Regions from separate parts of the Homo sapiens genome. Here region 1 is linked to region 2. Evidence: fine-mapped expression QTL. A gene starts in region 2. The other region holds a variant in brackets. All regions are shown on one strand. Distances are between the middles of the regions. Region 1 overlaps CDC27 (cell division cycle 27). Region 2 holds the start of CDC27 (cell division cycle 27).

The links.
Region 1: its variant is fine-mapped to the expression of CDC27 in non-classical monocytes (Schmiedel 2018, PIP 0.95).

What each region holds. Positions count from the first base shown.
Region 1 is chr17:47,145,346-47,153,681 of GRCh38, reverse strand. It overlaps CDC27 (cell division cycle 27), which reads left to right. Exons shown (of 19, transcript NM_001256.6): 9 at 1,764-1,876. Among named protein-coding and RNA genes, the nearest start is that of CDC27, 40 kb to the left of the region's middle. The variant TA/A (reference allele first, on the strand shown) is at 4,172.
Region 2 is chr17:47,185,851-47,194,186 of GRCh38, reverse strand. CDC27 (cell division cycle 27) reads left to right here and starts at 4,892. Exons shown (of 19, transcript NM_001256.6): 1 at 4,892-5,041. The coding sequence starts at 5,015. It also overlaps a transcript of MYL4 not described here. RefSeq lists enhancers at 4,968-5,157, 4,688-5,284 and a silencer at 5,318-5,367.

The DNA.
Region 1 (8,336 bases), 41 kb after region 2:
ATATAAAATACCTATTGCCATGCTTCATAAATATTCAAGAAATGGAAGCTAAACAAGTCATACTAATATGTGAATAACAGTTATACTCTCTTTACCTTAATAGAAACATGTTTCTTCTTATAGTTGTTTTTTTACTATTTTACTCCTGAACATCCTTAGAATCTGCAAAAGATTTTTCTATAATAACTCCTTAGTGAGTGATAATAGGAACTCCAAGAATACTTAAAAGGGACTGCAAAATAGTTTGTGTATGGATTGTTTTAAACATTACAGTTATGAAGAAGGCAAAACAAAATGGTAGTTAGCATGCCAGGTGAAGTAGGCCAAAACTAGAAGAGCCATAATAACCATAATAACCAGAGCAAGTTAAGACAGTGGGCAGGCACATGATTTTAGTGCCCAGATAAGATTGCTCTCTCATCCTCTTCTGCCTCTGTTCTCCTCTTACCTTATTACAAGACATTCCCAGAAAAGTCACGCATGTAGGTCTGCATGCAGTGTCAACTGAAAATATCAAACCAGGTATTGAGTGCAGTGTACATAGTTCTTTGATAAATAAGGAAAAGCCAGAGTTGACTTTTGTCCCTTGGATGAATGTAGTGATCCCAATTTGGAAAAGGCGGAGGAAGGCTTATGAAGTTTTATTTTGAAGTGGTGGTACATTAGATGAAAATATTCAGTAGAAAGTTAGTCATAGAGGAAAAAATGTGACCTGCTGATAGAAATAATAATTGAAACTATTAAAATGACCAGGCTCTCCTAGGGAAAGAAAGAGTAGCTAAGGAGAACAGAGTAAACCTAATTTAAAAATAGTAGAAGGATAAAGGGCCAGCAAATGAAGTGGCAGGACAAATAATGTAATGTTTTGGAAGTAACACAAAGTTTCAAAAAGTAGGGCATGATCAGTGATGTTGAATGCAGGAAAGGCTAAAATAAGGTTTTAATATCTGATGAGACAGTGATTATTAGTGATTATTTATAATATGCAGTTTGAGGATTGTGTACAGGACATCAGGGTAACAGTAAGTTTTGAAGAAAATTCTCTGGTAGCCAAAGGGGAAAAACAGTGCACTGATACAATAGTCATAGATCATTTAAAGAAGCTAGATGGTGGAAATGAATAGAAATAAGGGAATAAATTAGAGAAGACTGAAGAGCCAAGCAAAGATTTTTTTTTCTCCAAGGGAACAGAAACCAATTAATGAAGATTAGAAAAACTAAGCAATATTAACTCTAAAGAACAATATCCTTAGGTTTTGGAAAGTAATCAGATGGTTGTTTTTTTAAAATCTACTCCTCTGAACTCCTTTAGAACTGTTACCAAGTGCCAAAGGAGTATAAAATCTTATCGTATTATTATTTTTTTCTGTGTATAATGAGATAAATCATAAATCTTGAGAATTTAGCTGTCTTAAAATTTTTTAGTACTTAACCCCAAATAGAGAAGGTATGTAATAAATGGAGGATGGTCACAATGAGATGAAAAGAATAGCTTCTGGGGATTTTTAGTCTTTGAAACAAAAAGCGAAAGATGAAAAGACATTATAGAGGTAAAAATACTGTGAGATTAAAACAGGGAAATAGACTGATGTTCATACTAATACAACAATAATTAACAATATGATATAAATAGTTTATCTTTAAGGTGACAGTATATTATGGCTGCTTGTATTGAGAAAATGTAGATGGGAGCGTTGTGTTGTCTTTTATCATTTACAGTGCAGCCCATAATTCACAAACCTTAGACTTTTCGTGTTTTACAGTCTGTTGCCAGAATCGGCCAAACTGGAACAAAGTCTGTCTTCTCACAGAGTGGAAATAGCCGAGAGGTAACTCCAATTCTTGCACAAACACAAAGTTCTGGTCCACAAACAAGGTATTTATCATTGTAATTATTCAACTTTTCTTGGCATAAAACTTGATTCTTTACATTTCTTTAATTTAGGCAGATAGTGACTCTCGTGGATTCTAGAATAACTACTGTAAATTTTGAAGATGTAAAATTTGAAACCTCTAACTTACAACACTAATGTAATTTTGAGTTGAGTTTTGTAATGCACAGAAGACAATAGTTAACTAAAGCAGCATTTTAGTTTACTCTGATTGCCTCATGGATTTGTAATTTTCTTCTTATGCACATGACCCTTTCTATAGTTTAGGTACAGATAGGTTTCATACTCCCCTTCCCCACATTATGCATGTCTATAAACAGATTATAAAAATAACAGACAAATAAACTTCAAATAATGAATCTATTTCCACACAGAAATGGTGTTAGATAGGATTTTCTTTTCCTCTTCAAGGACTCAATAGATTATAGCTAACATTTTAAAAGGAAGATACAATTTTCTTTCTCCTTTCTAAAACTGTGAACATGTACCTAAATTTTAAAACAGACATACACACAGGTGTGCATATACCTCCTTGACTATCTAAAAGACCTCTATGTTCCTGTAATGCTCCCAGAATGGTAAGTCTAATCCTCTTGAGTGCCAGCTTGCAGTGATTGCCTGAGGCTCTGTTGTGAGAAGGAACTTGAGACCTCCTGCAAAGCAACATTATATGTAAAAATAATTTCCGATTTGTACATTTCACTTTAGAGTCAAACAAATAGACTAACACTAATAAACATCAGCTCTTTTTTTTATGGAGATGGAGTTTCACTCTTGTTGCCCAAGCTGGAGTGCAGTGGTGTGATCTCGGCCCACCACAACCTCCGCCTCCCGGGTTCAAGTGATTCTCCTGCCTCAGCTTCCTGAGTAGCTGGGATTATAGGCATGTGTCACCACACCCAGCTAATTTTGTATTTTTAGTAAAGACAGGGTTTCTCCATGTTGGTCAGGCTGGTCTCGAACTCCCAACCTCAGGTGATCCGCCTGCCTCAGCCTCCCAAAGTGCTGGGATTACAGGCATGAGCCACCGTGCCTGGCCAACATTCACTCTTAATAATTTTGTGTTCTTTGTATTGTTGATTCCATTTTATCTCCTTAATTGCCTATATTAGTTTTCTAGGGCTGCCATAACAAAGTACCACAACTTAGTGTCTTAAAACAACAGATACTTATTCTCTTACAGTTGTAAAGCCATAAGTCCAAAATCAAGGTGTTGGCAGGGTTGTTCCCCTTCCAAAATCTTTAGAGGAGGATTTTTCCTTGCCTCCTCCAGCTTCTGATAACCCCAGGTGTTCTTTAGCATGTGACAGTATAACTCAGTATCTTCCTCTGTCTTCACATGGTCATCTTCCATGTGTGTTTCTGTATCTAAATTTCCCTCTTGTAAAGACAACAGTTATATTGGATTAGGGTCAACCCAGATATCCTCAGCTTAACTCAATGACATCTGCAAAAACCAAATTTCTGAATAAAATCACATTGACATGTACTGGGGCTTAGGGCTTCAACATATCTTTTGGGGAGGTACAATTCAATATTGCCTTATTAGCAATTGCTCTTTATTTTGTCTTTTTAAAGGTTGTTTGGAGTTTGTAGTAAACATTTTAACTTATCAAGGTTTGCCTTCAAGTAATAGACAATTTCATGTATAGCACAGAACCTTACAATAGTATACTTTCGTGCTCCTCTCTTAGTCTTTATGGGAGGGATGGCTGTAATATATTTAATTTCTATATATGTTATAAACCCCACAGTGCATTATTGTGGTTGTGGTTTCTGCCTTAAACAGTCAGTTGTCTTTTTATAGAGTTTTGTTTTTGTTTTTGTTTTTGTTTTAGACGGAGTTTCGCTCTGTTACCCAGGCTGTAGTGCAATGGTGCAATCTCGGCTCACTGCAACCTCCACCTCCCCAGTTCAAGCAATGCTACTGCCTCAGCCTCCCATGTAGCTGGGATTACAGGCATGTGCCACCACGCCCGGCTAATTTTTGTATTTTTAGTAGAGACAGGGTTTCACGATGTTGGCCAGGCTAGCGTCAAACTCCTGACCTCAAATGATCCACCCGCCTCAGCCTCCCAAAGTGCTGGGATTACAGGCATGAGCTACCATGCCCAGCTGAAATTTTTTTAAATGAGAAAAAGAAGTCTATTTTATATTTACACACATAACTACAATTTCTGGTGCCCTTTCCTTCTATAGATCCAGATTGCGATCTGATATCATTTTCCTCCACCTTGAAGGACTTCTTTTTAACATTTCTTTTTTTTTTTTTTTTTTTT[TA/A]AGACAGAGTCTCACTCTGTCACCAGGCTGAAGTGCAGTGGCACGATCTCGGCTCACTGCAACTTCTGCCACCTGGGTTAAAGCGATTCTCCTGCCTCAGCCTCCCGAGTAGCTGGGACTACAGGTGTGCACCACCACACCCAGCTAATTTTTGTATTTTTAGTAGAAACGGGGTTTCACCATGTTGGCCAGGATGGTCCCGATCTCTTGACCTTGTGATCCTCCTGCCTTGGCCTCCCGAAGTGCTGGGATTACAGTCATGAGCCCCACCGCACCTGGCCTTTTTATCATTTCTTATAGTACGAGTCAGCTGGTAATGAATTTTTTCAGCTTTTGTGGATCAGAAAAAAAGTTCTTATTTCATCTTTATTTTTGAACAATATTTTTACTAGGCAAGAATTTCTTTCTTTTTCTTTTTTTTTTTTTTTTTTTGAGACAGAGTCTTGCTTGTTGCCTGGGCTGGAGTGCAATGGCACAATCTTGGCTCCCTGCAACCTCTGCTTCCCGAGTTCAAGCAATTCTCCTGCCACGGCCTCCCGAGTAGCTGGGATTACAGGCATGTGCTATCATGCTCAGCTAATTTTTGCATTTTTAGTAGAGATTGGCTTTCACCATGTTGGCCAGGCTAGTCTTGAATTCCTGACCTCAGGTGATCGCCCATCTTGGCCTCCCAAAGTGCTGAGATTACAGGCATGAGCCACTACGCCTGGCCAAGAATTTCTAATTGACAATTTTTTTAGGGATGTTGCTTTACTGGTTTTTTGGCTTATATTGTTTCTGACAAGAAATCTGCTGTCAATCTCATTTTTGTTCCTCTATATGTAGTAATATGTCTTTTCTCTGTTTCAAGGTTTTGTTTTTAATTGCTGATTTTAAGCAATTCGATTATGATGTGCTCTAGTGTAGCTTTGTTGTTTCTCGGCCTTTGGATTTATTGAGCTTCTTGGATCTGTGGGTTTATAGTTTTCATAATAGTTGGCTAAATTGGGGGCATTATTTCTTCAAATATTATGTCCATGTCTTACCCTCTCCCTCTGGGACTCCAGGTACTTGTATATTAGATTGCTTGAAGTTGCCCCACAGCTCACTAATTCTTCATTTTTGTTTCCAATCTTTCTCCTCTCCGTGTTTCATTTTGGATAGTGTTTATTGCTATGTCTTCAAATTAATGTTTCTTCAGCAGTGTCAGACCTGTTATTAACCACACCCAGTGTTGTTGGGTTTTTTGTTTTGTTTTGTTTTTTTATTGCAGACATTTGTCTTTCATCTCTAGATTGATTTGGTTTTCTTTCTTTCTTTTTTTTTTTTTTTGAGATAGAGTCTCGCTCTGTTGCCCAGGCTGGAGTGCAGTGGCACAATCTGGCTCACTGCACCCTCCGCCCCTCCTGGGTTCAAGCGATTCTCCTGCCTCAGCCTCCTGAGTAGCTGGGATTACAGGCATGTGCCACTGCGCCCTGCTAATTTTTGTATTTTTAGTAGAGATGGGGTTTCACCATGTTGGTCAGGCTGATCTCAAACTCCTGACTCGTGATCCGCCCACCTTGGCCTCCGAAAGTGCTGGGATTACAGGTGTGAGCCACCGCGCCCAGCCTTTTTTTTTTTTTTTTTTTTGAGACAGGGTCTCACTGTCACCCAGGCTGGAGTGCAGTGATGCTACTATGGCTCACTGTAGCCTCAAACTCCTTGGCTCAAGCGATTCTCTTGCGTTAGCCTCCTGAGTAGCTGGGACTACAGGCACATGCCACCACATGTGGCTGATTATTTTTATTTTTTATTTTTTTGTAGAGACAAGGACAAGGTCTCTATGAGACAAGGTCTTGCTATGTTGTCCAGGCAGATCTTGACCTCCGGGCCTGAAGCAGTCCTGGCTTGGCCTCCCAAAGTGCTGGGCCGACAGGCATGAGCCACCTCATCCAGTCTCTTCTATGTTTTTGAACGTATAGGATGTATTTGTATTTTTTTAATGTTTTTGCCTACTAAGTCTGTTACTTTGTTATTTCTAAGTGTTTCTTATATTACTTTTCCTCTTCATTGTAGATTATATTTTCCTGCTGTTTTCTATGCCTAGTGTTTTTTTTTTTGTTTGTTTGTTTGTTTGTTTGTTTGTTTTTGAGACGGAGTTTCGCTCTGTCGCCCAGGCTGGAGTGCAGTGGCGCGATCTCGACTCACTGCAAGCTCCGCCTCCCGGGTTCACGCCATTCTCCTGCCTCAGCCTCCCGTGTAGCTGGGACTACAGGCGCGCGCCACCATGCCCAGCTAATTTTTGTATTTTTAGTAGAGACGGGGTTTCACCGTGTTAGCCAGGATGGTCTCGATCTCCTGACCTCGTGATCCGCCCGTCTCGGCCTCCCAAAGTGCTGGGATTACAGGCGTGAGCCACCGCGCCCGGCTGCCTAGTGTTTTTTAATTGGATGTCAGTTATTATAAATTTTACTTTTTTTCTTTGAGACAGGGTCTTTTACTCTGATGCCCAGGCTAGAGTACAGTGGTGTGATTATAGCTCAGTGCAGCCTCAAACTCCTGGGCTCAAGAAGTCCTCCCACTTCAGGCTCCTGGGTAGCTGGAACTATAGGCACGTGCCACATATGGCTAATTTTTTTTTAGTTTTGCAGAGATGGGGTCTTGCTGTGTTGCTCAGGCTGTTCTCAAACTCCTGGCCTCAAGCAATCCTCCCACCTCACCCACCCGAGTTGTTGGGATTACAGGTGTGAGCCACTGTGCCTGGCTATAAATTTTACATTGTTGATTACTGGATATTTTTGCATTCCTTTAGGTATTTTAAAGTTTTATTCTGAGATGCAGTAAAGTTGCTTGGAAACAGCTTGATCCCTTCAGGTCTTACCTTTTAAATTTTGTCCAGACAAAAGTAGCCTTAGTCTGGACTAATCTTGTCCCACCATTGAGGAAGTACCCTTTGAGTACTCTCCTCAAAAACCTGTTTAGTATGAGGTTTCTTCACTCTGCCTATTGAAAGTATGAGCTATTCCCAGCTTGGAGTGAGATCCAGTAATTATTCTGTCTGCTTCTTTTCAGTAATACTTTCCCCAGCTTTGGGTAGTTTCTTCACTATAGTACTATAATGTAATTCTGATGCTAACTACCCAAACTTAGCACAGACACCACAGGTTAAGATCACAGTCCCCAACAAGAACTGTCTGAACTGCCCAGTTGTAGGTTCTGGGTTCCCCAGGCCACCCACATTTCTGACCAACTGGCTACAAATTTAAGGATTCCTACTACCCTCTTACATTCAGTAATTTGCTAGAGCACCTCACAGAGTCCAGGAAAGTGCTATACTTAATGATTACAGTTTTATTGTAGATGACATAATTAGGAGATCCATAGGATTAGATATGGGAGGGTCCTGATACAGAGCTTTCATGTCTTCTTTCTGGGCTCACCCTCCCAATGCATCAGTATGTTTACAAACCAGGAATTTGAGCCAAGTTTTGGTGTTCAAAATTTTTATTAGGGTTTTTAAATTATGTAGGTGTGATTGATGGAATCATTGGCCACATGATTGAACTCAATTTCCTTCCCAGAGGAGCTCAGGCTGGTGTTGCTGGCTCAAAGCCCCAGCCCTCTAATCACATGGTTGACTTTTTTTTTTTTGAGACAGAGTTTCGCTGTTGTCGCCCAGGCTGCAATGCAATGGCACGATCTTGGCTCACTGCAACCTCCACCTCCCGGGTTCAAGTGATTACACTTGAACCCGCGAGTGGCTGGGATTACAGGCACCCGCCATCATGCCCAGCTAATTTTTGTATTTTTAGTAGAGATGGGGTTCCACCATGTTGGCCAGGATGATCTCGATCTCTTGACCTCGTGATCCGCCTGCCTTGGCCTGCCAAAGTGCTGGGATTACATGTGTGAGCCACCATGCCCGGCCACATGGTTGACCTTTACAGCACAGCCAGCACCCATCCAGAAAGTATCTAGGAGTTACTTCATTAGCATAAATTCAGGCACGGTCCCAGGAGCTCATAATGAATAACAAAGACATCCCTGTCACTTGAGGAATTCCAAGGACTTAGTAGATCTCAGGAGCCTGGGACGTGGACCAGACAAATTCTTTATTATATAACACTCAAACACCTACACTGATCAATTTTCAACTGAAGACTCTAGGGAAGCCCTCTGCAGATCTTTGTAGGTCTCCTCTTT
Region 2 (8,336 bases):
CTATGAGACATCCAGATAAAGGTGTCCTCTTGGCAGTTAGTCATTTGGGCCTGGAGCTCTAAAAAGTAGTCTGGCTGGAGATACAAATTTTTCAAACCATTTGTAGATGAGAAACTGGGGCCACAAGAATGGATAGGGGCGGGGTATGGTGGCTTACGCCTGTAATCCCAGCACTTTGGGAGGCCAAGGTGGGTGGATCACCTAAGGTCAGGAGACCAGCCTGGCCAACATGGCGAAACCCCATCTCTACTAAAAATGCAAAAATTAGCCTGGCATGGTGGCGTGTGCCTGTGGTCCCAGCTACTCGGGAGGCTGAGGCAGGAGAATCGCTTGAACCTGGGAGGTGGAGGTTGCAGCGGGCTGAGATCACACCACTGCACTCCAGCCTGGGTGACAGAGTGAGACTCTGTCTCAAAAGAAAGGAAAGAGAAAGAAAAAGGAAGAAAGAAAGAAAGGAAGGAAGGAAGGAAGGAAAGAAAGAAAGAAAGGATAGTTTTGCCTAAGAAGAATGTGTAGGGTGGGTGAGAAGAAGGCCTAGAACAGGTCCTTGAAGCATGCTTAATATTAAAGGGGCTGGCAGAGGAGCTGCAAAGGAAACCGATTAAAAAACAGAGCAGTAGGCCAGGCGCAGTGGCTCATGCCTGTAATCCCAGCATTTTGGAAGGCTGAGGCAGGCAGATCACTTGAGGTCAAGAGTTCGAGACCAGCCCAGCCAACATGGCGAAACTCCGTCTCTACTGAAAATACAAAAATTAGCTGGGTGTGGTGGCGCACACCTGTAAATTCAGCTACTCAGGGGGCTGAGGCAGGAGAATCGCTTGAACCCAGGAGACGGAGGCTGCAGTGAGCCGAGATAGCGCCATTGCACTCCAGCCTGGGTGACAGAGCGAGACTCTCTCAAACAAACAAACAAACAAAAACAGAGCAGTAGGAGGAAAGCTAGGAGATGGTGTCATTAGAGAAGCCAAAAGAAGAGGATGATTTGACCAAAGAGTAAACATGGTGAGGGTGGGGTGGGGGTGGTGGGGTGCAAGGTCAGGTAAGGAGGCCATAAAACCGCACGCAACAGGGACAAAATGAAGGGTACAGACAAGGAGGACTGAAAGACTTCAGGAGAGTACACTTACTCTGGGCTATGTTTCAGTGGGACCTACATTTTGCTACTGATATCACGTCTAGCTTTTTGAATAGTTCCCTAAATGCCAGCCTCCAAATCTGACTGAATATGAAATAGACCAAGAAGCAGGCTTAGGAGAAAAAATAATTTTCCAATTCCATTTTTGGAATAATGCTGTTGTAACCCAACTCCACTCACTAGCCAAACATATTGGATAACGGATGACAGCAGGATGCCCAAGTGGTTGATGAATAGCGAGTTTAAGTAGGTCAATTAGGAGCAGAGAAGGAAGTAAAAACACTCCAAAATACCCCATCAAAGTACTTCAAACAATGTGGCTTTGCTGTGGATGAGTAGAAACCACAACAGATGTATTAGCCTGGTCAACAACAATCAGAAAGGAGATGCTTTTTTTTTTTTGAGACACAGTCTTGCACTGTCACCCAGGCTGGAGTGCAGTGGCCCGATCTCAGCTCACCGCAAGCTCCGCCTCCCAGATTCACGCCATTCTCCTGCCTCAGCCTCCCCAGCAGCTGGGGACCACAGGTGCCCACCACCACGCCCGGCCAATTTTTTGTATTTTTAGTAGAGATGGGGTTTCACTGTGTTAGCCAGGATGGTCTCGATCTCCTGACCTTGTGATCTGCCCGCCTTGGCCTCCTAAAGTGCTGGGATTACAGGCGTGAGCCAACGCGCCTGGCCTTTTTTTTTTTTTGAGACGGAGTTTTGCTCTTGTTGCCCAGGCTGGAGAACAATGGCGCAATCTCAGCTCACCGCAACCTCCACCTCCCAGGTTCAAGCGATTCTCCTGCCTCAGCCTCCCAAGTAGCTGGGATTACAGGCATGTGCCACCACGCCCAGCTAATTTGGTATTTTTAGTAGAGACAGGTTTTCTCCATGTTGGTCAGGCTGGTCTGGAACGCCTGACCTCAGGTGATCCGTCTGCATTGGCCTCCCAAAGTGTTGGGATTACAGGCGTGAGCCACCTCACCCAGCCAGGAAATGCTCTTTTTTAGGTTAAAAAAAGAAAAAAGGCTTTAGGCAAATTCTAAGCCTATAAGCCAGAGTGCCAAGCATCAGAGGCTCTTTAAATGCTGACTCTAGATCCATATTTTCACAAAGTATCATCTTTATGTATCCTCTGTGGTAAGGTCCTATATTTAGGTTTACAAAACTCTGCTGCACACATACAAGACTTGGGTTGGCAGCATGTTGTGTGAAAAAGAGCTGAGTCCGTAAATGACCACACAAGTTTAGCATGAGCAAACAGTGTCATGTGACTGCTAAAAAATGTAAATACAGGCTGGGCACAGTGGCTCACACCTGTAATCCCAGCACTTTGGGAGGCCGAGATGGGTGGATCATGAGATCAGGAGTTTGAGACCAGCCTGGCCAACATGGTGAAACCCCGTCTCTACTAAAAATACAAAAATTAACCGGGCGTGGTGGTGCGCACCTGCAATCCCAGCTACTCGGGACGTTGAGACAGGAGAATTGCTTGAACCCCGGAGGCGGAGGACGCAGTCAGCCGAGATTGCGCCATTACACTCCAGCTCTGGGCAACAGAGCAAGACTCAGTCTCGGAAAAAAAAAATGTAAATACAACTGTAGTCCACTTTAATAGACGTGTCCAGATAATAATAGTCCAACTGCATTCTGAATTATTCAGAATAAATCTGGAGTACTGTGTTCAGTTGAAAGGGTCACATTTTAAGAGTGATAGCTCTTACTTATCCCTTTCTTTCCATTCCCAATCTTAGATACTCTCATCTCATATCTAGCGTGGTAGATTGTTTCCAAAGATGACCCAAAAACTCCTCCCATGGCACACGCCCTTTGTGGTGTTACTTTGCCACTCTTCCCATTAAGAAGTAGACTATTCCTCCTGGTGAATCCAGGGTGGCTCTGAGTCTTACTCTGACCAACAAGAAGTGATGCTCACAGGCCTAGGCCTAAGGGACCTCACAGCTTCTATTTTTGCGCACTTTGTTGTCAACCACCAAGTCAAGAAGCTGGAGCTAAACTACTGACTCATAAGAGGCCAGTGTGAAAAGAGAGGTCATGCAGAGAAGAAATGAAGGACCCAGCCAATAGCTACCACTGACACCCTAGACATGTGAGTGAAGCCATCTTGAATCTTTCAGCCCTAGCCAAGCCAGTGCTGGTGATGTTCTTCTATATCTGTGTGACTGTCCAATATGGCAGTCACTAGCCACATACAGGGCTACTGAATCCTTGGAATGTGGCTAGGGCATCTGAAGAACTTCATTTTTAATTTCATTTTAACTTAAACTTTAAATAGCTAATGGCTACTTTCCAGGCCAGTGTAAAAGTCTGTTACCACTCAAGTCATCCAGCATAATCCCGCTAAAGCAACTGGGCACAGGGCAGCCAAAAATCATCTTAGCACCTGCCCTTTAGGGGCTATAAGTATATATACAGTGACAAGACAAGGCGGTGGAGAAGGATGCAGTGTAGCTCTGTCAGCCTTGTTTTTAAAAATGAAAGAAAAAATATCTCCCTCTAACATCACCCAAAGGGAAATTTCCAAGCAATGGAATATATCATGATTCTCACATCTAGCCTAGAGAGCTCCTGACTAGAAAAGTAACTTTCAAAAACTGTTTCCTCATCTGCTGAAAAACAAAATTTAAACAGTCCCCTGGTTCACTCTTTTTGGGGGGAGAAGGGGAGCAGAAAGGAAATATGAGAGAGTCTACATTGCATGCTAGACACGGCCACATTTATAATACATCGAATTCTCTTAATCCTTTTTTTTCAAACTAAGCGAACATAAGTTCAGAGAGGTAATTTGCCAAGGACCTATGACTAGTTAGTGCTAAAGATAAAATTCAAAACCAGGCCTCTGAATTTCCGACCCCCTACTCTTCCCACCACAGCGGAATGCCTCACCTATCAAAAATAAAAATTTCTAATGGCCTATTGAGCTTTTCCATGATCTCTTCACCTAAGTAACTATTTCCAATTAATGCCTTCTTAGCAGACTGATCCCATTTTTCCTCCCTTCACTTTCCTATACTTCTTTTTCCTCTAATTTTACCCATCCTTCAAACTCCATTTTAAACTTTTTTTTCCTTCCATAGAACTTTCCTTATCTTATCACAATTGCCCTCTCTGAATTTTTATATTACTTATAATAGGCACCATATAATATAGCGTTCTCTGTTACACTGCTTTTCCCTTAAATAGACCTTAATCTCCTTGAAGACAGAAGCTATCCTATGTCTTTGGGGAGTGGCAATCTTTCCAAATTTCTTTAGCTTTCCCCCAGAGCCGTGAGTAGATACTTCTGGAATGGACGAATGATCTAAACTCAATAGACAAATACTTGTTGATTCATTAAAGACAGCCCCAAACTCTGCTGTTTCACCCTTTGCTTCATAATCTACAGCACACCAATTAATCCAAAAGGGCTGAGGGGCTAATCCACACTGCAGCCCCGCCACGTAACGCTACCCGCCCGCGCTGTCACGCCACGCCCAGCCTGCTGGTTGCAGATTTGGCGTAGCCCAACCCTGGGACGGCCGATTGGGCGTGGTGTGCGTGGCTGAAGGCGTGGCTGAGAAGAGAAACCTACGCTTTGGGTCAGACTCGGTAGCTTCCGGTAATCTTCGACAATTTCCGGCAACGGTTTTCTCTCTCGTCGACCAACCTCGGGTATTTCCGACTCCCTTCGGGCTTTTCCGTCTGGTTCCCGCTCGGCTTTCTCCACTTCGGGTATTCCCGTGTCCCGCTCGGAAGCACTCGGCAATCGCTCGGCCTCCCCCATCCCCCGGTAACGGTCGCTGGTGAGTTTAAATGAGCAGGGGCTGGCCGGGCCGGAGCCGCTACAGGGGGGGCCTGAGGCACTGCAGAAAGTGGGCCTGAGCCTCGAGGATGACGGTGCTGCAGGAACCCGTCCAGGTAATGATAACCTTCTTCTCTGGGGCTTGGCTGGCAGCCTCGGTCGGGAAGCAGCAGCGTAGGGCCACTCCGCGGCCTGGTGCGGCCTAGGCCCGGCTGCTTCTCCCGCCTCCCCTGCTGCCGTGTCCTGCCTATCTTTAGTCAGTTCGGAGGCCTTGCCCACAGCCTAAGCCGTGTTACCTCTGGCCCTACATTACTTCACCCTTAGCGTGAGCGGCTTCGGCGAAAATAACCGCCTTTCCCGTCCGAGCCAACGTCCGGCCAGCCTTTCCTGTCAGTCCAGGGGCCTGGCTTGACTGGGGGTGGGAGATGAGGGGCCGAAAATGCACCCCAAGCGCTCTCTTGCCTAAAAGATGATCGAGAAGCACATTTGATCGGAGCTTGTGTGATCTTCGTGACGGTAGGGCAAGTTTACGGAGGTTTTTTTTATTTTGTCTTGTATGAGAGGGTGGAGGGAGCGTAGGATCGGTCTTTTTAATACTAATTTCTATTTTGGTAACAGACTTCCTATCCCACGTTTCCTTTCTCGGTGAATTTCCCACCGGACAATGATGGTTTGAGAAGACAACTCCAAGCCTCAGTGCTGAGGCGCAAGCACCAATACCAGGGGAGGAGGTGGAAAGGGCACATTTGGGTTGTTTTCATCCTCTCTGATGGGGATCAGGAGCATTTTGTTGTGCATGTTTATAAGGCATTCAGGAAATGAAACACAAATAATGGTGTTTCTGTCCATTTCACTGCCTTTACACCAGGGTATGCTTTGACGCACAGTGCTGTGTTGCATTAAAGGAACCCTATTGGATTTTAAGTGTGTGATGCGGTGCCAAGTCATTTTCCCCCCTGACATCTGGAGAAACTGTATCTTTTGTGCCTTGGTAATGGACCAGGTCTGGGAGACTTCATCCCACTATATGATCTTTAACTTGATCAGAATTGACCTCTATCAACTGCTGTCATTGAGTCATGGACTTTATTTTGAAGTTATAAAGCAAACTGATTTTTAGAAATTCCTTCATATTGCCCTTAAAAGGCTTGAGGTATCAAACAGTAAATATTTTAATATATCACTACTTTCATATTTATTTCATTTTTCTAAACAGCATGAAATACTCATTTCTTCTAGTTTGGTTTTTTTCTCCAGCTGTTTACATATAGCAGCTATTAGTGTTTGAATTAATAAAACGTAAGATTATATCTTATGAAATTTACCTGTCTGTAAGTTGTATTAGTTTTTCTAGAGCTATTTCCATCCAAATTCTTTTTACCAGTATAGTTTCTTTTAAGATTTTTTTTTATTCTGGCTGTAGATGAGGTAATTATATATATATAATTTTTTAAGGCCTAACATGAACTTAAATAGATAAGCAGATTACTCAAGTTATTTAATTTCTGTTGCATATTCTTATAATTTTGTTTTAATAGTTAATGATTTTTTTTTTTTTGCCTTCTCTGGCCCCAGAAGTCTTCTAAAGTGATAAACTAGTTGCATTGATAGACTATAACCACCATTTAATAATAATTTCAGACTTTATAAAAGCATGGAAGGCCGGGCGTGGTGGCTTACACCTGAAATCCCAGCACTTTGGGAGGCTGAGGCGGGTGGATCACCTGAGGTCAGGAGTTCGAGACCTGCCTGGCCAACACAGTGAAACCCTGTCTCTACTAAAAATATAAAAAATTAGCCAGGCGTGGTGGTGGGCGCCTGTAATCCCAGCTACTTGGGAGGCTGAGGCAGGAGAATTGCCTGAACCCAGGAGATGGAGTTTGCAGTGAGCCGACATGGTCCCGCTGCACTCCAGCCTGGGCGACAGAGTGAGACTCCATCTCAAAATAAATAAATAAATAAAAAATAAAAGCATGGAAAAGAAAAGGAATATGTAGCCTGTTTCTAGATAGTACCCATCAGGTTTCCTGTTTGTCCTTAAAGTACTCTGAGCAGTAATACACTTTGATATTTTTAAGGCTTAAATGTCAAATTTGCTTCTTTTTCATAGCAGCATTGTCCATTAGATTTTTGAGATAGTGGTAGAAAGTTTTAGGATATGACTAGGTGAAAATTTTGGTTGTATAGTATAAGAAGCCATTCAAGAATGGATTTGGAACAGTGAGAAGAACAAGCAACTTTGGCTACAATGATAAAGATCAATGATCAGGGATAGTGCTGCAAATGGGAAAGAATTAGGAAGAGAATAAAAATAGGACAGATATATAAGATACTGTCTTTATTAAAAAAAAAACTATGATGACAGATTGCGTGTATTTGGAAAGCAATGAGAGTAAGTTGGAAAATTGTTCTTTCTTGGAATGCCTCAGAGTTGATGGTATTACTAGGCATAGGAAAAAGTTCACAGAAAATATGAAGAACTGTTTTCTGCATTTTTTTTTCTTTAAAGTTTTAATGTAGAATGGCCAGTCCGATATACCATATATGCCTAAATTAAAACTCCGTCTCAAATTACTACCTCTCAGAAGAGTATTACTTTATATTTGAGTCCTTACAAAAGTCTCACATATGAGGCAGAATTTCTGTCAGTTCTTTTATTTTTAATGGTAACTATTTGGAAAGACACACTAGCCTAAGTGACTTCAGTGAGAGCTTTTTGAATATTTATAAAAGTCACCTGGTGAAATTGGTTTTTAAAAAAGAAGCAAAGAGATTTTATATAGATTTAGCAATTATTCCTAGGGGTAAGACTTCACAGAAGTGTTGGATGAAGTTGTAAATAAGCCTTTCGAAAATTAATTTAATAAGCAATATAGCAATTGGGTACTATATACATGATACTGTTTTAGAGATCATTAGATGGTGAAGGAGTACTCTTGGCTGGGGATAAAATGTTCAGGGACAGCATCTAACATGGATTCAAAGAGTAACATATTTTGGCTACTCAATGAGAAATTTAGATTTAATGTGCATTGGTAATGAATAACCATTATATGAGCAGAAGAGTTTTTGAGCAGAGGAATTATGTAATAAAAGCACCACTTTGGGAATATTTATCTGGTGCTGTTGGAAAGGGAGGAAGAGACAAGAGTTAGACATACAGACTAGTAGAATAATCCAACTGCATGATCATGTAGACCAGGGCTGCTTAATCTGAGCACTATTGACATTTGGGGCAAGCTAATACTTTGTTGGAAGCTGTGCATTGTAGAATGTTTTGTAGCATCCCTGGCTTCTAACCACTGGATGACCCCTCCATTTGTGACAACCAAAAATACCCTCTAGACATTGCTAAATGTTGGGGCATTAATTGGGAGTAAGAAGGCAAAATTGCCCAGAGTAAGAACCACT